Regions from separate parts of the Homo sapiens genome. Here regions 1, 2 and 4 are each reported to be linked to region 3. Evidence: microRNA targets listed by miRTarBase, many of them from high-throughput screens and not tested one by one. Region 3 holds a microRNA gene; each other region holds the end of a gene's coding sequence.
What was found. Region 3 holds the annotated microRNA hsa-miR-4323 (CAGCCCCACAGCCUCAGA, at 3,040-3,057, opposite strand). A microRNA usually pairs through its seed, bases 2 to 8, with sites in the 3' UTR of a target mRNA and lowers its output. Matches are read on the target gene's strand: a 7mer-m8 pairs with bases 2 to 8, a 7mer-A1 pairs with bases 2 to 7 and ends in A, and an 8mer does both.

Region 1: the mRNA of TEX22 is a reported target of hsa-miR-4323. Seed matches in the 3' UTR shown: 7mer-A1 at 1,792-1,798 and 7mer-A1 at 2,967-2,973.
Region 2: miRTarBase lists ARAP1 as a target of hsa-miR-4323. Seed matches in the 3' UTR shown: 7mer-m8 at 754-760.
Region 4: miRTarBase lists REST as a target of hsa-miR-4323. Seed matches in the 3' UTR shown: 8mer at 3,451-3,458.

What each region holds. Positions count from the first base shown.
Region 1 is chr14:105,410,226-105,415,707 of GRCh38, forward strand. TEX22 (testis expressed 22) reads left to right here. Exons shown (of 4, transcript NM_001195082.2): 3 at 1,143-1,271; 4 at 1,435-3,634. The coding sequence ends at 1,608. Among named protein-coding and RNA genes, the nearest start is that of MTA1-DT, 6.8 kb to the right of the region's middle. RefSeq lists silencers at 1,016-1,075, 1,176-1,305, 4,721-5,130 and enhancers at 1,377-1,880, 1,881-2,383.
Region 2 is chr11:72,683,145-72,686,144 of GRCh38, reverse strand. It overlaps ARAP1 (ArfGAP with RhoGAP domain, ankyrin repeat and PH domain 1), which reads left to right. Exons shown (of 35, transcript NM_001040118.3): 34 at 1-103; 35 at 464-1,076. The coding sequence ends at 481. Among named protein-coding and RNA genes, the nearest start is that of PDE2A, 10 kb to the right of the region's middle. RefSeq lists an enhancer at 852-1,411.
Region 3 is chr19:42,130,416-42,135,897 of GRCh38, forward strand. It overlaps MIR4323 (microRNA 4323), which reads right to left and starts at 3,098; the gene lies at 3,030-3,098. It overlaps POU2F2 (POU class 2 homeobox 2), which reads right to left and starts at 2,031. Exons shown (of 15, transcript NM_001394376.1): 1 at 1,969-2,031. The coding sequence starts at 1,996. LNROP (long non-coding regulator of POU2F2) reads left to right here and starts at 2,214. Exons shown (of 3, transcript NR_038332.1): 1 at 2,214-2,346; 2 at 2,490-2,613. RefSeq lists a silencer at 2,713-2,972 and an enhancer at 3,253-3,302.
Region 4 is chr4:56,931,515-56,936,996 of GRCh38, forward strand. REST (RE1 silencing transcription factor) reads left to right here. Exons shown (of 4, transcript NM_005612.5): 4 at 1-4,330. The coding sequence ends at 638. Among named protein-coding and RNA genes, the nearest start is that of REST, 26 kb to the left of the region's middle. RefSeq lists an enhancer at 5,185-5,482.

The DNA of each region.
Region 1 (5,482 bases), not on the chromosome of region 3:
TGCCACCACGCCTGGCTAATTTTGTATTTTTAGTAGAGATGGGGTTTTTCCACGTTGGTCAGGCTAGTCTCGAACTCCTGACCTCAGGTGATCTACTCGCCTCGGCCTCCCAAAATGCTGGGATTACAGGCATGAGCCACCACACCCGGCCAGCCTTTTTACTTTTTAAGGCTTAATAATATTCCATTTTCTGGATCTGCCACATTTTCTTTATCCATTGATCCATTGTGGAAACCTGGATTCCTTCCACATTTTCGCTATTGTGAATAATGACCACTGCTGTGTTGGAGTGCGCACATCTGTTTGCCTTCCTGCCTTCAACTCTTTTGGGTACATACCCCAAAGCGGAATTGCTGGATCCCATGCAATTCTGATTTTAATGTTTTGAGGAATGAGAATTCACTTCGGGTTTGCATGAATCCCACTCTTAGCATGGCACTGCCTTCTCTCCCCTCTCCCCTTCCCCCTGGTGAGGGAGGTGGAGGATGGTGAACCTCAGGCTGAGCAGAGTCTGGAGGAACCGTCTCCTGCAGCCCACGTGGGAAGTTCCTTCTTGGGGGATAGAGGTCGTGCTGGGGACCTCACCTGCTTCTGGCCTTTCCCTGTGGCCCTCCCACAGCTTCTCCAGCTGGTGGTCCCTGCCCTCCAGTCTCCTGTACCCTGCCAGGGGCCCTCCTCCACTGGCGCTGGTCTTTTGTCTATGGATTCATGATCTTTATTTTCTCCCGAACTCTCTTTATGATCATTTCAGAGGGGTCTGGGGAGAAGGGCAGTCTGGAGCTGGCCTTAGTCCTGCCTTTCCTGAGGCACGCATCAGTGCTCGAGCTCCGGGGGTTCTCCTGCCGGTCAAGCCGGGGGCCGGCCGTGAGGACTAAGCGGTCCACAGGCAGCCCTGCTGTACATGAAGCGGGGCAGGTACTGGGTTGGGCGGTGTCCTGGCACAGATGACTGTGCAAAGCCACAGAGGGCCACACTGCCTGAGGCCCCGCGCCGGGAGCTGGCGCTGGAGCAGCGGGAGGCTGAGCAGACGGCGCTTTAGAAAGCGCCCGGGGGCGAGCTCTGAGGGTCGGCGGGTGCTGGGTGGGAGCGGCGAAGGGGAGCTGGCGCCGAGGCCCTCGCCGACCCGCTGCCCTGTCCCCCAGGTGTGCGAGCCGCCGGAACGCAGGCGCCCGGGCCGCCGCTGGAGCGTCAGCATCGACGAGCGCCGGCGGCTGGCCACGCTGGGCGGCCGGGAGAGGCCGGGCGCCGCCGGGACCCAGCTGCACTGCAGGGTGCGCGGGGGGCGGGTCCTCCCCGCCCCGTCCCCGCCCCGCCCCGCCCCTCCGCCTCGCCTCCCTCGACTCAGTCCCACTGGGCCCTTTACCCCGGCGCTCCCGGGCCCCGCCGTTGTCCCCTTCCCGCCCCTCGAGGCTCCCTGACCACCCTCGCCCGCAGGACGTCGTGCAGATGGTAGCCCAGCTGGTGTCGGAGGACGTGGACAAGGACGTGCTCCTTCCCCACCCGCTGAGGTCCACCGAGTCCACCAACGCCTTCCAGGCCTTCCTGGCGCGCAGTGCGCCTTTCTGGCATAATGCGACTTTCGAGGCCTCGAGGTCACCCCCTTCCTAAGAGCCCCATTCAGCCCATTGTCTGTCTTCCAGTGCCTTTCCTTGGGGGCCCACGGTGGGGGCAGCCTCTGCGCCTTCTTTGTGCCCCACCAGGGGGTCACCACCCACCCATGTTAGGAAAACAGGCCAGGCAGGACCTGGCTCCGGACAGCCTGCAGCTGCTGAGGCCTTGGAGACCGGGCTAGGGGCTATGGGAGGCCATCTAGGGGAGGGGAACACTGCCCCGGGTCAGTCTGAGAGGGCCCTGGCAAGGCCTGGGTAGCAGGAGCTTGCCCTCGGGGCCGCTGGGAGGAGGCCTGGGGTACCTGGGCCTGCCTGAGGTGCACTGGTGTCCTGGGAAGCCCCAGTGGCAGGCGCTGCCTGGAGACTCAGCTCCTTGGCTGGCCTGGTCTGGGGAACTGGGTATCTGCCTGCACCAGGCTGTGAGATGGGCCAGGCAGAGTTCTCCAGGGGGCGGGGTCTCACATTGGGTCCTGCCTCTGAAGACCCAGAAGGGCACACGGGACCCCAGGGGTGCTGTGGTGGGGAGCAGCAAGCCCAGGGACCCAATGCAGTGCCCAGCACAGAGGGAGGCTGTCTGGAGGCAGAGATGCCTCCTGGCCTCTGGACAGCGATGCTGGTGGTGGACGAGGGCCAAGAGGGTATCCTGCGCAGGGGGTCTGAGCAACTGTGAGGAGCTGGCTGCCGCAGGGGCCTGTGGGACATGGTCCACTGGGTGACTGCCTCGTTTCCAGGCTGCAGGGCCCTCGGAAGGGTGCTGAGCCGGGGTAACGTGTCCCAGCTGCATTTTGGGGACACTAAGTTGCAGGGGGACTGGATTGGGAGGCGGGGCAGGAGAGCTGTGAGCATGGGTTCCCAGCCCGGGGTGGGTGGGGGTGGGGAAAGGGCCCTGAACTCTGTGACTGACTGTTAGGGGCCTGACTGGGCTTCTGTGGAGGTGGCTAGGTGGAGGAGGCTTTGGGGCAAGCGGAGGTGATCACTCCTGGGCTCCAGGTGAGGGCAGGAGCTGGACCTGTGCGGTGGCCTGGACCACCAGATACACTACATGCTGGCTGTGCTGCCCACCTGGCCTGTAACCCTCCCCTTCCCGCTGCTGAGAAGCCACCTGACTGCACTGCCAGCCACCTGCTGCCCTGACACAGGATCCCTGGCCCGAGTTGAATCCTCTGCACCTGCCTGTCTCCCCTTCTTACTGTAAGACTCAGTGAAGTTCCCTCCTCCTTCAGGAAGCCTTCCAAGATTACACAGCCAGGTGCTCCCCTTCTCTCCCAAGTCCTCTGAATGTCATTTGGTGCACCCTAGGGATCCTCTGCATTTCTCAGGAGCCCTAGGGTAGGTGGATGGAGGGCAGATCCTCCAGGGGCTAGGGCAGGTGTCCTTAAGGGTGTGGGGAGTTTTGGGCAGGGCACTGTCCTTAAGGGTGTGGGGAGTTTTGGGTCATGACCCACCCCCTCTGAGGCCCCTGATGATGATGTGGGGAATGGGATCCTATGGGCCCAGCTGCATGCCAGGCAGGCATCCCCAGGTGTAAACAGGGCAGAGCGGAGCTGACAGGTAAGCAGTTGCCATGGGGGTGATGAGCTGGGCAGTCCTCTGTTGCTGAGTGGCTTTAAAGAACCACTCGTTGTTCTGTGACTTGGGGGTTGGCTGGGCTCATCCTGCCAGCTCTCCTGCTCTCGTTTGAGTGTCTCCTGAGGCTGCAGTCAGAGCGTGGTGGTCCAGGATGCTGGTGATGCTGGGATGGTTGCCCTCTCTGCTCCATGAGGTCTCCCTACAGAGCACCTCCCCCATGGTGGCAGCAGAGACAAAACCCTGGCCTCCTTCAGGCTGAGGCCCAGAGCCAGTCTCCTGGTGGGTAAGGTGGCCACAGGGCCAGCTGGCAGCAGGGTATTGGCACTGAGAGGCACAGGCCTCTCCAACAGAGGTGGTGCCGGGACAGGGGCAGTGCCTGGAGACCGCTTAGGTTGTCACAACTGGGATTTGTGTACTAGTTTTCTGTAGCTGCCATAAAAATTGCCACAAATTCAGTAGGTTTGGTTTCTTTTTCTTTTTTCTTTTTTTGGTGGTTGGGGCGGAGCGGGGGGCAGGCTTGCTATGTTGCCCAGGCTGGTCTTGAACTATTGGACTCAAGTGATCCCCCGACTTTGGCCTCCTGGGTAGCTGGGACTGCAGGTGCATCCCACCACACCCGGCCTTTATTTTTTTTTTTGTAAGTTTTTATAGAGAAACAGTCTTGGTATGTTGCTCAGGCTGGTCTTGAACTCCTTGACCCAAGCAATCCTCTTGCCTCGGCCTCCTGAGTAGCTGGGGTTACATGAGTGTTCCACTGGTGCCTGGCTTTGAGTGTTTTAAAACAACACAAATGTATTAGCTAAGTTTTGTAGAAGTTCAAAATGGGTATCTTTGGGCTCAGAATGAGGGGTTGGCAGAGTTCTGTTCCTTCTGGAGGTGCCAGGGGAGACCCTGTTTCCCTTTTTCTAGCCTCAAGAAGCCACCTGCATTCCTTGGCTGGTAGTTGTGGCCTCCTTCGGAGCGGCCGAGCCCCTCTCTGCCCTGCCCTTCTCTGCCCACCTCTCCATTGCCTCCCTCCTGCACCCTGAAACACACTTGTGGCTACGCTGGGCCCACCCGGAAGATCCAGGGTCGCCTGCCTGCTTTCGGGTGAACTGGTTAGCCCCCTTCCTAACCTGCCACTTAACCCAGTTAACCCAGCCTGCTCCAAGGTTCTGGGGATTTGTACACAAGTATCTGTGAGAGGGGCATTCTGCCTTCCACAGGGGCTGCCGGCACCTGGTGGGCAGAGGCGGCGGCGCTGTGCTGCTCAGGATCCCGCAATGCATGGGCAGCCCCAAACCATGAGGGCCCGGCAGGAAACCCGGGGGCAGAGGAGGGTGCGTGCGGCGGGAGCGCATGTGAAGCCCACCTTGCAAGGGGAGGGGCGCGCTCTTCGCGGGACGGCAGAGGGAGGGTCTCTGAGGCGCGTGGAATCAAGGGGACAGAAGAAGCAGTCTCGGGAGTGGGAAGGATCCTGGGAGGGGAGTGGGAAGGATCCTGGGAGGGGAGTGGGAAGGATCCTGGGAGGGGAGTGGGAAGGATCCTGGGAGGGGAGTGGGAAGGATCCTGGGAGGGGAGTGGGGATCCCCCGAAGTCTCGCAGCAGTAGTGTGGTGCTTAGGCCGTCGCCCCGGCCGCCACTGCGCCTCCCCACCCGCAGGCCTCCGCAGCGCCACGGGCGGCCGCGCGGGGTAGCGTTTGGGGGCTCCCGGGGACGCGGTCTCCGGCGCGCAGGTCCGCCCAGGGTTGGCCGCGTGGTCCCCCGGGCTTCCCACGCCCGATTCGAATTGTGACTCCGGCTGGCTCCGGACCGAGCCGAGGACGCTCCGGCACCACAGCAGGAGCCGCGCGGGCGGGGGCGCGGGGCGCGGAACGGGGCGCGGGGCGCCTGGGAGATGTAGTTCGCGGCCTTCCCCGGCGCACCAGACAATGCCCGACGCGGCCCCGCTGGAGAAACGCCTTCCTTGGCTTTGCAGAAACACCGCTTGCTATTAATACAGCAACGAATACAGCTTTAAAAACGCGCCCAGTGTCCTCCCTGGAATAACAGCTGTTAACATTACCTAAAGGTTATCCCAGATATTTCTAAATGTATATGGGGAGATAAAAGGATGTAATGGAAATACAGAAATACGTGTCGAGTTGCTACTTATAGACTTTTAAATATTTAAAGAAAAAAATTGCTAAAAGCAGATGAATGCTTCTTCACCTCAAGTTTAAAAGTCTCCTTACGATGGCCGGGCGCCGTGGCTCAGGCCTGTAATCCCGGCACTTTGGGAAGCCAAGGCAGGCAGATCGCTTGAGCTCAGGAGTTGGAGAACA
Region 2 (3,000 bases), not on the chromosome of region 3:
AGTGCCTGAGGTCCGGCTGGGTAGTGTGTCACTGATCCCCCTTCGAGGTAGTGAAAATGAAATGCGCCGGAGTGTGGCTGCCTTCACCGCGGACCCTCTGTCTGTGAGTGGCTCTCCATGCCTTTGGGCAGGGGGCTGGGGGCCTGGCTGGGTGCCTGCCTTCTACTCCACAGTAGATGATTGCCCTGATTGCCCTCCCCGATTGCCCTCCGGCCCCCTCCCTCCAGCCTTGGTGGGGGCCCTCATAGGCCTCTTTGGTTCACACCATTCAAAGGAGCCCCTTCTGCCTGGCCCTGGAAGCTGGGAGTCCCCTCTGCCTGGCCCTGGGAGCTGGGAGCCTGGCTGATTGGAGTGCTCCCCGGCTGGCAGTGGAGAGTGGCTGCAGCAGCTGCAGCAGCTTCAGCGGGGCGCCAGCCCCTCTGGGCCTTCACAAAATACCTGTGGGTCTCTTGCCTTCCTGCAGCTTCTGCGCAACGTCTGAGCACAGGAGCCCATCCTTGGCTCTAGGATTCCGCCGCTGGAAGCCTTCTGTTCAGACACCCCTTATGCTCCAAGGCCTGATGTGAGCCAGCGGGGGGTGCATGGGAAACTGCACCCCACAACCCACATCCTCCATCCTGACTGCAGCATGGGGTTCCCCGGCAGGGGTGGGAGGCAGCAGGGGTCAGCCTGGGCAGGAACCTCTCCCAACTCTGTCCAGGTGTTCAGACCTCTTGGCCCAACCTGCTCACCCCACCGGGTTCACTGTCCTTGTGGGGCTGGAGAGATGGGCATAAGTCAGGAACTTGGGAGGACCACCACCCTTTCAGAGGCGTGAGGCCCTGGGGCCCTGCCGGAAGGGAGCCCCCTGCTCCTCCCAACAAACTCCAGAACAGCAGAAAGCGGGTGCTGTAGAGGAGCACTCAGCTCACGGGGAGGGAGCTCTTGGCTGAGCTTCTACAGGGCTGAGAGCTGCGCTTTGGGGACTTCAGCCTTCCTTCCAGTCTGGGCTGAGTGGGGGGTCCAGACTACCTGATGCCCCTTCCCCAATTTGGGGACTTTTTGATAATATAAATATATCTGTATATTTTACCCTATGGTGCTGAGGCCTGTGATTGGCTAAGGGGATTGGGCGTCCTGGGGTAGGAGGGGACAGGAGGTCGGGAAGCCCAGGGGTGAGTGCCTAGTGCCTGAAGCTGAGAACCTAGGCCTTGCTTTCTCCAGGCCCTGAGCTATTCAGACGACCCCCTTCCCCAAGCAGAGCCCTGGCTTGACTCCATGCCTTCCCCATTGTACTATCCTGCAGCCAGGCTGGGAATGCCGGTCCTTTCCTGGCCAGCACTGACCCTGGCTGGACACAAGCCCCTGTCCTGCTGCAGTCCGAGTCTGAGTCCCAGCTGGGGCCTGGGTGTGGTGTGTCAGTGACTCAGGCCTGGCAGCCCTGCAGCAGCCCCCTGCTGGAGACACAAGGTCAGAGCCACAGGAGCCTGAGGAAATTGAGAAGAAGCACCTTTGGGTCACCTGTGGCCCCAGTGCCTACCCCTCCAGAGGTGGGGCCTGCCATGCACCAGGGGGCTGCCCTCACTGGGCACTGCCTGGCCATCTCCACTAAGAAGATGAGGCCCTGGCCTGCAGAGGAAATAATGAGTTGCTCAGAGATGGGTTTGGGACTCCCTGGGGAGGTGCCAGACACCACATTCCCGCCTCTGCCTAGAGCCTCATTACCACCCGCTCTTCGGGGGCTCAGTGGGCGGACAGGCTGACCTCCATCCTTAGCCTCAGCCAGTGGGGCTGGGCAGAGTGGGTGGGGATGGGCCATGTGACCTCCGACTCAGGCATCCAGCTCAGTGGGGAGCCTGGGTCCAGCGGAAGACTTGGGGAGCTGGACTCCAGGTTCCCTCTCGCTGTCTCAGGAAGGGGAGGTATATGGCAGGAGACTGGAACCGGTTCCCTGAGTCCTACTGACCTATTTCACAGGCTGGGGCTAAGCCCCTTGAGTCTCCCACCTCCTGTGGGTCGCTCTGGCCAGATCCACAGGTCGAATGTCTGACCCTTCTGCCTCCAGCCAGGACAGGTTGGACCCCCTTATCCAAGTGCTGAGGGGCTGGAATCCGCTCCTGGATCTGACCTTGCACTGCCCAGCCAGCCCTGAGGCCCACCTGAGTGGGTGAGACTGGAGGCGCCCCCTGCTCTGCTAAGGCCACTGCCCCAGCTCAGCGTGCTGGCTGCAGTCCTGCACTAGGCCACAAGGCGGCAGCCATGGACCACTCATCATTGCTGGAATCAAAGCAGGGTCTGGAGGATGCCTGAGTGGTGGTCCTGGCCCAGACCTTTCTCTGCTGGGGTGTGAAGCGGGACCCAGTTCTGCCTTTGGCCTGCAGGCTGGTGACATTCTGGAAGGCAGCACCATACAGGAATGTGCATTGGAGTCCTGGGCTCTGGGAACCAGGAAGAGGAGGGAACAGCCTTCTACCAAGTACCTGCTGTGAATCGGCCCCTGTGCCCCCTGCACTGTCTGCTCTTGGCAAGGGGGAGCTAGGCCCAGAGAAGGGAGGCAACTTTCCCAAGGTCACACCATGCTCGTGAAGCAGGCCTGAGGTCCATTTCCCCTGCCCTACTTTGGTGGGGTCTCCCTCTTTGACTCCCCTCCTGATTCCAACCCTTTTCTCCTCTTAGAAATGGCCTGAGGCAGGGGGTCTGAACTGTCAGGAGTTAGTGATGGCTTAAAGTGATTTCCCTCTGGTAAGGGGTAGGGGTGACATCCAAACAGGAGCCTCAGGGCCTCAGCCGGAATGAAATATGCCTGTGACAACAGTGTTGGATGGGTTAGGGGCAGGAGGCTCTGCTGGTCCTTGTCGCAAGGATTCCTAAAAATGGGGCCTGTTGGGACCCTGGATGGTTTGCTCATTCACATATTATTTGAAGTTGGGTTGCCATGGATGAGTTGAAGACCCCAGACCTGGACCTGCAGAGGGGCCAGGAGCAGCTCTTGGAAAGGGAGGGGCTTCCTGGACAAGGAAG
Region 3 (5,482 bases):
GAGTGATCTGCCCACAGCCACACAGTGTATTAATTCATGTCCAGGCAGGGAAAATTCACCCCAGTCTTCCCACACTGGGCTGTTCTGTGAGAAATCCCAAGTAAAGGGTTTAGCCTACTGCCCAGCACCTCTGAGGTCCCCATTTAACCCCAGAGAGGAACGAGTCAGTGGGAGCAGACACCCTGGATCTCTGTGTCTACACTGTATGGACACACACACATATACACAGTTGCATACACAGTCACCTCAACAAATAAACATGTCACCCTGCAAATAGTCTTCCTTTCATCCCACCCCTCTCCTCACCGCCTTTGCTTGCTCATACCCACTCATTCTTCATATCCCTGCTCAGACACCCCCTTCCTCCAGGAAGCCCTCCTTGACACTCTACCAACTAAATCACATGTTTTCAGGGCTCCTACGATCCCCTAATACCTCCCCGTCCTGGCCCAACCCCTCTACCTATGTCCCCCTATCCCAGCCCTGACCCCTCTGCCTGGGCCTCCCCCATCCCAGCCCCAACCCCTCTACCTATGTCCCCCCATCCCAGCCCTGACCCCTCTGCCTGAGCCTCCCCAACCCCAGCCCTGACCCCTCTGCTTGGGGCCTCCCTCATCCCAGCCCCAACCCCTCTACCTTTGTCCCCCCATCCCACCCCGACACCTCTGCCTGTGCCCACCACCCCAGCCCTGACCCTTCTGCCTGGGCCTCCCCCATCCCAGCCCTGACCCCTCTGCCTGGGCCTCCCCCATCCCAGCCCTGATCCCTCTGCCTGGACCTCCCCCATCCCAGCCCTGACCTGTCTGTACTGTCATTGGTGACAGGTCTGTCTTCTCCAATAAACTGGGAGCTCCAGGAGGACAGACCTGAGCTACCCTTTCCACTGTACTTCCAACACCCAACACAGAACTACTCAATAGATACATGTTGGTGGAGGACACACGGGTGCCCGCACACAATGGCGCATATAGGACAGCACACACCACCAAACCAAGACTCATGCCCATGGTCATGCCTACACAGCCACAAATGAAACAGGCATGAAGGGCTGAGTGCTTGCCATGTTCCAGGCACTGTGCTAAGCATGCTACATGTATTACCTCATTTAAGACTCCCATCAACACTGCTGAGTGATAGCCATCACCATACAGACATATACACATTCTACTAAATGAGCCAACAGCTATAAATCACCTTGTACAGTGCCTGGTGCACAATGTTCACTCAGCCAACTGACATTTGGTGGAGAAGGCATTTAATAAGCACACAAACAAACACATAATGAAATTCCCAGCAGTGATACGTGCCGTGAAGAAAAGATAAAGCAGGGTGAGGGGACTGAGAGTGACAGGATCAGTGCCAGTTTAGATGGGGAGGTCAGGGAAGGCTGCCCTGAGGAGGTGACATCTGAGGTGAATGAAGTGAAGAAGGGAGCCAGGCAATCATCACCCCACAATGCCACACACAACAGCCCCCTACACTCACAAGCACACAGCAGTCCCACTCAGAGCACTCAGAACTACTGCACACACACATGCACACGCACACCTGTACCAGATGTGCACACACACACTCAAAAGGGAATGACATCCCCCAAGTCCAGCAACTTGGCATTCCAATCCCTTTGCAGCCCTTATCCAAGGATTGCCCATGTCACCCACCCCACTGGTTCTCCACATGAGGGCCCGCTACCAACACCCAGCTCCCTCCCTCCCGTCCCCAGACCCTTCGGAACAGGGCAACAGAGAAGAGAAGATGTTGGAAGTTCCGGTGCCTGATGTGGAAAGAGAGGGCAAAGAGGAGCTGTGGGGGTTAGCGGGGACCCGGCATGGGAGAGAGGGAGTTGCTAGAGTACAGAGGAGAAGGACAATGGAGACAGCTGAGGAGGAGGGGCAGGCAGGGCCCGCAGAGCAAACCTAAATGTGCTGCCTGTCCTCTGAGCAGTGGCACAGGCACCAGCCCCCTTACCTGGAGCCCCCATGCTGGAGTGAACCATGCTGCCCGCCCCGCCAGGGCTGGGGGAACAACTGTGTCATCTCCCCACCCTCTCTGGGGGCCGAGCCCTCCCTGCCGGAAGTCACTCAGGGAGGAAACCACAGGGCCGGTCCGCCCCCTTCAGAAGGGAAAATACCCTGGCCCACAGACCCGCCCCGGCAGCCCGGCCCACCCCAAATCATGTGTGTGTGCTGGGGGGTGGGGGCTAGTGGGGCAGAGGATAAGCAGGCTGGAAGAGCCGACTCCTACGGCTGCGATCCAAGAGGTGCCTGCAACAGTTGCCCCCCGACTTCTGTCGCCCCCATGGAGGCAAACAAGTCTGGAACAGGGAATGGGGGTCTGGGAGAGAAGGTGGGTCCACAGCAGTAACAACAATAAAACACTAGCCAGCAGCTTATTGGAGAGAGGGCTTTGCCGATGCCTGACCCTGTGCCTCACTCTTGACAGGTGCCATCTCCAATGTGGTGGTCACTCTTATTTGCCCCATTTTACAGATGAAAAGACTGAGGATCAGAGAGGTGAGCAGTAGCTTTCCCAAAGGCCCAGAGCCAAGAAGCGTTGAAGCTTAAAAGCACGCCGCGGCAGGGAAGATCAAGCAAGCCCTGCGCCTATCTGCAGGTGAGCTGTTGGGTGCCACCATTGGGAGGAAGTGGTGCCCGTGGGCAGTGGTAGTGGGGACGGTGGGTCGGGGACTTGGCCTGGGGCTACAATAAGTCGCCGGCCAAATGCGGGCGCCCGAGGCGGCTCCAGTGGAGGGGAGCACCAGGTCCCCGGGCTGCCGGCTGGCTCTTCGCGCTGCGGCGCTCCCATTTCAGCGCTTCCCTCCGTGCCCGCCAGAGGGCGGCAGCGCCCAGCCAATGGGCCGGAGGGCGGGGCCGGCTGCGGAGAAGGGAGCCCCTCCCTCCGCTCCCCTCCCCAACACCCTCCCAACACCTCCGCTCGCACACCTGCGAGGGTCACACAAAGGCGCAGGACTCCCGGCGCACCGCAGCTCAGACAAAGGCGCGCCCGAGTCCGCTGCCCTCTTCCTCTTGGTGCCCGAGGTCTGAGGCTGTGGGGCTGCCTGGCGTCTCCAGACACCCCACATGCCCGCCTGGGCCCCGCAGGACATCCTGCGCCCCGTGGCTGGGGGGCCCCCTAAACCACAGGTGCATGCACAGACGCCTGGACTCACCCTCACACACACAAGTATTTCTACAGATGAACCCCAGCACTTCACACACACACACGTGTGCACACACACGTGCATGAACACATCTATGTGCACAGGCCCCAACACCAGCCCTCCCTGCTGACGATGGTCACTCCCATATACTGATACCTCCTCTACTCCCTCACATGGACCCATGGGCACAAGGGCACTTCTACACATATGTGCCCAAGCATACTTCCTGGCCACTCGCACCCACTCACACACAGGCACACTCAGAAAGGGTATACTACAGGCACAACTACAGGAGTGCCCTCCCCTGACTGCACACGTGCCCTGTGCACCCAGACACACCCAGGCAAGCAGGTGGGCACAACAGGAAGGACTGGCAGTTCTCATATATGCACACGAGAGGTGACCGTTTCCCGGCATCTACACTCCACAACATCCCGTATCGTAAAGGCCATTTCACAGAGGAGATCCACAGACCACACAGCAACTGGCCACAGGATTTCTATACATGAGGGTCTTCCCGACAGCAGCCTGGTAGCAGTGGACACTGGAGCCTTGTCTCAAAGCGACATTTACGCAGTAAGCTTTGTTTTCAGTTAGGATTTGTTTTGGGGGGCTTGGAAATGGGGCTATAGGACATTATGGGGGGGGGCAAAACCTCACCAGCCACCCTTATGCTCCACCCTGGACAGACTCAACATCATCCACGTCAGGAACACGCTTTTGGATGTGACCCCATTCCAGCCCCCTAGAGCCAGCAGAGAAGGACCACCCACTTCCAGTGCGGCCAGGTCTGCAGTTCAGTCCTGGAGCCGGGGAAGGCTGTATACGCTCCCTGAGAGATGAAACAACCCCACACCTCTCGCCTCCCATGCTGGCTCCATTCTCAGTGCCTCAGACCAGAGCTGGGCCTGGTGAGGGGATCTTGAAGGAGGATGGGCCTGCCTGAGAGAGGATAGAGGGGCAGAGTTTGGAACACACTGGCAGCTGGAACAGGGAGGCTCAAGGCAGGGGGAGATGGTGGCCTCGTTGCCACAGAAGAGGCCTCGAGCCATGCTGAGGGAGGCAGGTAGGGCATGGGAGCTAGGGAGCAGTGGGGGCCACTTGAGGTGCAGGGAGCTGGGAGGGAGGCGGTACAGGGGAGGCCAGGCTGGGCTCAGGGCTGAGCGGTAATTAAAGGAGACGTAGGGGGCTCCCCAGGGCCAGCGGGGCTGGTAACTGACACGCGGGCCCCATTGCTCCGCTCATATTTCTCGCCGGATCGATACGTTTGACTCCCGACAAGACAATAATCGCTTGTACGCGGCCGGCGAGTCGATCAAATACATTATTAGAGCGAGGTCCCCCGGGGGCCCGGCGGGGAGTGGTGGGGGGGAGCAGCCAGCCCACCGGGGACAGCAGAGCGAGATTCTTCACCCCTCAGGGCCCCCCAGCCATGGCCTCTTCCTCTTGGCCACCCCTGGGGACCCTCTCTGTGGCTCAGTTCCCCAGCCTCTCTCTGAATGTCTGCTGCTTTGGTGATCTCTCTACTCAGCCCCCAGCATCATCCTTGCTCTGTGAGGGAACCCAAGGGTTCTTTCCCCATAGGCACTGCCCTCATCTGTAGGGCTGTGGCATGTGGGAGCTCAGAGAGGCTCCTCAGACCCCTAGCTTGGCAGGAGACAGGGAGACCAAGCCTCAGGCCATACTCTGAGTCCATGGCTGGGCCAGGAGATGAACTTGGGCCCAAGACTCAATGATACCCACCTCCCTCTGCCCAGTCCCCTTGCTGCATCTAAGCACACGGGGCTTCAGCAGCGCCCAGGCCAGGGGCAGCCTCTGGGGGGTTAGGGAAAGCTAACCTAGGGACCCAAACAAGCAGGAAAACAGGATGATAGGGGTGGCAGGAAAACAGGATGATAGGGGTGGCAGACAAACACATACACAAAGAGATGTGTGTCTGCTCCTGCTGCAGGGCCATGTGGTCCCCCAGTGGGCCTCAGAGACCCTCAAACCATGCCCAGCCTCAGCTCTGGCCCACCCGAGACACTGCTTGCCACTCTTGCCCACTTTCCTGGCTTCTAGGCTCAAGCCTATTTCCCCTTTTAAAAAAAATTAAATTAAGCTTTAGCTTTATTTTTAAAGTCCAGGCTCTTTTTTTTTTTTTTTCCTTTGAGACAGAGTCTCACTCTGTCGCTCAGGCTGGAGTGCAATGGCACAATCCCGGCTCACTGCAACCTCCGCCTCCTGGGTTCAAGCGCATCTCACGCCTCCTCAGCCTCCCGAGTAGCCGGGATTACAGGTGCACACCACCAGGCCAGGCTAATTTTTGTGTTTTTAGGAGAG
Region 4 (5,482 bases), not on the chromosome of region 3:
GTGAAGGAAATAAAGAAGCCCCTCTTCAGAAAGTAGGAGCAGAAGAGGCAGATGAGAGCCTACCTGGTCTTGCTGCTAATATCAACGAATCTACCCATATTTCATCCTCTGGACAAAACTTGAATACGCCAGAGGGTGAAACTTTAAATGGTAAACATCAGACTGACAGTATAGTTTGTGAAATGAAAATGGACACTGATCAGAACACAAGAGAGAATCTCACTGGTATAAATTCAACAGTTGAAGAACCAGTTTCACCAATGCTTCCCCCTTCAGCAGTAGAAGAACGTGAAGCAGTGTCCAAAACTGCACTGGCATCACCTCCTGCTACAATGGCAGCAAATGAGTCTCAGGAAATTGATGAAGATGAAGGCATCCACAGCCATGAAGGAAGTGACCTAAGTGACAACATGTCAGAGGGTAGTGATGATTCTGGATTGCATGGGGCTCGGCCAGTTCCACAAGAATCTAGCAGAAAAAATGCAAAGGAAGCCTTGGCAGTCAAAGCGGCTAAGGGAGATTTTGTTTGTATCTTCTGTGATCGTTCTTTCAGAAAGGGAAAAGATTACAGCAAACACCTCAATCGCCATTTGGTTAATGTGTACTATCTTGAAGAAGCAGCTCAAGGGCAGGAGTAATGAAACTTTGAACAAGGTTTCAGTTCTTAGTTTGTAAGGTATATTACATTTTATATTCATTTATGATAGCAGACAACCTTTTAAGATTGCTTTAATTAGTATCTGATGTTGATTTTTAAGTGGCATTCTTTTCCTTAGGACTTTTTATGTATACCTGTTGATTGTTGTGTAAATTTTAGTAAATCTAAGAGAGTGTACTAAACCAGCAGGTATCTGTTAGCTTATGTGTTTAATTGAAATTAGAAGGCTAAGATGGTATAACAGCATTTTATTGCTTTGTCCAGCTACAACTTGTCATTTTTTTCTCCATGTCTTATCTTCCTGTTTCACTTTAGTTTATTCTTCGTTTTTTATTGAGATCTATAAAAAATTGGCTTACTTAATAGCAAATTACTTGAAGAATTTGCCTGCTTTATATAAAGTTAGCACTTTAAGATTTTTTTTTTTAGAGATGAGAAGACATTTAAATTGAAGAAAAATTCCCCCAGCAATAGACAGTCTATCAGTCCAAGTATTTACTTCCTGAGTTTTGATCAATATTTTTTATTTGTGTATGTTAATCGTCATAAAAACAGTGATTTTGGTGTGTTTTTTATTTTGGTGCTTTAATGGCTTAAGATGTTGCACATTTTTTTTTTCTTTTGGTTTCTGTTTATGTTTTTTTGCCTATGCAGTTAAATTTTTCCTAGAAATAGCATTTGTGTTGAACAGTAACACTTTATACATATATATATGCATGTTTATTTTGTTTGGCGTCTTTGGAGGGATGCTTTTAGACTTGTTTGCAAAAGGGCAGTTTTCTTTTTCTTTGCTGCAGTTGTCTATTTTGCAGAATAATAGTGTGTGCAAGTTTGTGAGCAAATGAAATATGCAGGTTCAATCTATTGATTTTGATTTTTACATCTTATATCTATGCCAGAATCTGTATTTCATATAACTTATTTATTTCGAATGGATGTAGTAAATTCACAGCTATCAGTTTTGATTTTGCAATAAATAAACCACTAGGTTGCATGTCGAACAAATTTTTATCTCAAATACCAACCATCAGTTTTTTTTTTCATGTGTTTTGGTACAGCTAATTCCTAATTGTAGAGTGTTAAATGTTTGAGGAGAACCTTTTCTCATAGATGGTTGGTGTTCATATGGCTACTTTACAATAAAGAGAACTGTAAGTGATATTTGGAAACTACAAACCTGGAATTAGGAGATATAATTATTCCTTCAAGTTTTATAGAATATCACTTGGGAGATTCCAAAGCCATAGCTATTACGCGGCAAACCTAGGATAAGAAAGGTAGTATGAGTGCTGGTAGACCAGCTGCAACTTTCCTATACAGTGAAAAAGGCTGGTGAAACAAGTACAGTCCAGATTTTTTAAAATCATACTTTCTCAGGGATCTCCACAAACTGGTGGGTGTCCTGGCTGTCTGTGTGATAGCCTCTTTCTATAGGTGAGGCCTCAAATGAATTGCAGCTATCCTGGTGTTCCTATGAGGGCACTTTGTATGAAAAAGGGCATGTACTCCAAAACATTTTTGTAGGTTCTTTGGCCAGTTGCCAAAGAGTGTGAAAGAATCCAATAGAGGATTTTTCTTACTGATAGCAGTCATTCATTGCAGTAAAATAAAATATGATCCCATTAGGGAATCTTGAATTCTGACCTCCCATACTCCGTTTTGAAATAACCACTTTATATTTCATTTTTTAAAAATCTGATGATCTCTTTGAGGCAGGTTTCAGATTTGGCAGTACAACATGAAAGATTAGGAAAAGCATTAATAACGTGTGGGTGGAAAGCTTGTTAAAAATCTGAGAGTGAAGTTTGAGTTAAAAGTTGTTTGAACATGGCATTGACTGGGAGGCCAAAGATTTAAAGAAGCGGAAGATTCTTCTCTTAAGACATGAGGAGTAAGTTGTGTGATAATGGTATGTGTTTTGTGTGCATGAATGGACATTGTAAATGTTGAATTCTAGGCTCCGACAATCATTGTCAACAGAAGATCAAGCTGCAAATATTTATGTTTTAAAACTTAAATTATAAAGCTAGTTAAGTCTTTCTAATGACTAGTTTTAATGTTCATGGGTACATTTTACCTAAGTTACCGTTTACATTGTATAGAAAAAGATACATCTTAAGCACAGATTGGTTATTAGGAATTAGTTTGGGGAAGAGGTTTTTTTGTGGATTCTTTCATACTGCAAAGAAAAACCATTTGCCTTTTGGGGAATTGAGCTAACTTCTAATCTAGTCTTAAGACTAGAATGCTAAAAACAAAAACATGAAGGAAATTAAAACCCCTTATTATTAAATTGATTTGTAAAAACATTGTTACTGGAAATTTATTGGACTTGAGGCCTTCCTCCAGAAAATAAGGACTTGATTGTCAGGCCTATATTAGGTTCTGAACCTTAATGCCATGTATTTGTACTTACTAAAAATTGTTTCAATGAAAAGTACATTAGCAGTATGAACTTCTGGTCCAGTTGGAAGTTTTTCCATTTGAAAAATGTGATGTTTGCATGGAACTGTTTGAAACTTTTTTATTTTCTAGTCCCCCTCCCCCACACTGGATAGAATTTAGCCTAGAATTTTCCCTTTGGATAAAAGAACAAAAATTGAACATGTTATTTGTAAATTGATGTTTAGTAATTAGTGATAAACTTGAAATACTAGCATATATTATAAGCCTTAATCTTAGGTAGTCTTATGAAAATGAATCTCTTAACTATCTTTTGAACCTGTATTCACATTGGTTTTCAAGATATTTTAAGTTATATTTTTTCCTCTTTTCAGAGCTGCTTCTTATTCTGGGGCTACTTTTTTTTTTAGTTGTGTAATTCACAAAGGGCTGCATTTTTTTTTTTTTTTAATAAGGCTTATAACTATGGCTGGATCTTTTGCTCTAGTCTTCTAAGAAGGGCCATTTTATTTTTTAGAGTCACTTCTAAAGTCATGTGGTAATTAACTTTGGAGACTGTTTTGCGTATGAGTGCTGATACAAATTAAAACCCAAGTAGACCTCATTGCATGTCACCCTATGAATGTTGACAATGGAAGGAATACCTTGCCTGTAGTATACTGTCACTTCTGGATTGATAAGCTGAGGAAGAAAGTTAAGTTTCTTTTTTACATAAGTCAGAAAAACTTACAGCTGGTGTTCCTAGTTTCCTGGTTGACCTCAGCAGATGAAGTGAACAGATAGTGTTAATTCAGATTGAAGAAATTATCTGAATCTTGGTTTGTGTAGATTTACAATCTACATGCAATATTAACTAAATCAGATAGCTTTTACAGTTTCACATGTGTACATAGGTTCCCTCCCGGTCCCTTCCATATCCATTAGTTATTGAACTTTCTAAACTGGCATTGAAACATTACAACAATGTTTTGTTGCACCAATTTTATAAACTTAAGCAGTGCAATACGTGTTACTTTTCTGAGGCAAACCAAAGGTAAATTTCTCAAGGTTCTTGCTGCCTTCTTTAGCAGCATTTGATGGAAGATCTTTTATACATTTGTAATAGATAAAAATAAACCAGATTGCAAATCCTTTTTTAAAATCCTAAACCATGTACCAAGTTTTTGGTCCAAATTATGTAGGATAAGTTAAACTTAAATTGCATTCTATTAACCAATATGAGTGTATTTCTGTAAGCATAGTTATGTTGAAATAAAGTTTTAAAAACCATGATGCCTTTGTTTATTATTGGTATATCCAGAATGTAGGAAAGCCAAATTTATGTTGCTGGAACTGCAAGTGTATTAATAGGCTTTTGAAGATTATTTCTCAGGCTGGGCGCAGTGGCTCACGCCTGTAATCCCAGCACTTTGGGAGGCTGAGGCAGGTGGATCATGAGGTCAGGATTTCAAGGCCAGCCTGGCCGACATAGTGAAACCACGTCTCTACTAAAAATACAAAAATTAGCTGCGTGTGGTGGCAGGCGCCTGTAATCCCAGCTACTCGGGAGGCTGAGGCAAGAGAATCGCTTGAACACAGGAGGTGGAGGTTGCAGTGAGCCGAGATCGTGCCATTGCACTTCAGCCCAGGCGAGAGTGTGAGACTCTGTCTTTAAAAAAAAAAAAAAAAAAAGTATCACAGGTAGAAAAGTCACAGCATGTTGTCTGAGGTAACAGTCCAGTATGGGTAGTAACCCAAAGCATACACTGCTTGATGGGAGGTGCGGGAGAAATTGGACAATTCACACAAGATTTTAAATAGTAATTACTTCCCAACCACAAGTCCCCTTAATAGTTTTCATATGCATATCCCTTTTCAGTAGCAGGCCTGGAATTAGTGAATTTTGATTCATGAAGATGTTTTATTTTATGTATTTATTTTTTTTTGAAACAGTCTCTGTCGCCCAGGCTGGAGTGCAGTGTCATGATCCTAGCTCACTGCAACCTCTGCTGCCCGGGTTCAAGCAACTCTCCTGCCCCAGCCTCGCAAGTAGCTGGGATCACAGGCGCCCACCACCGCGCCTGGCCAATTTTTGTATTTCTAGTAGAGACGGGGTTTCACCACGTTGGCCAGGATGGTATCGATCTCCTGACCTCCTGATCCACCCGCCTCAGCCTCCCAAAGTGCTGGGATTACAGGCATGAGCTACCGTGCCCGGCTGTTTTTTATAAAATGAGACGGAGTTCTGTGTTGCCCAGGGTGGACTCAGATGATCCTCCCACCTCAGTCTCCCTAAATGCTGGGATTACAGATGTGAGCCACCATGCCTGGCCTGTGTGTTTTTTTTTTTTTCTTCTCCCAGACGGAGTCTTGCTCTGTCGCCCAGACTGGAGTGCCATGTCATGATCTCCTTTCACTGCAACCTCGGCCTCCAGGTTCAAG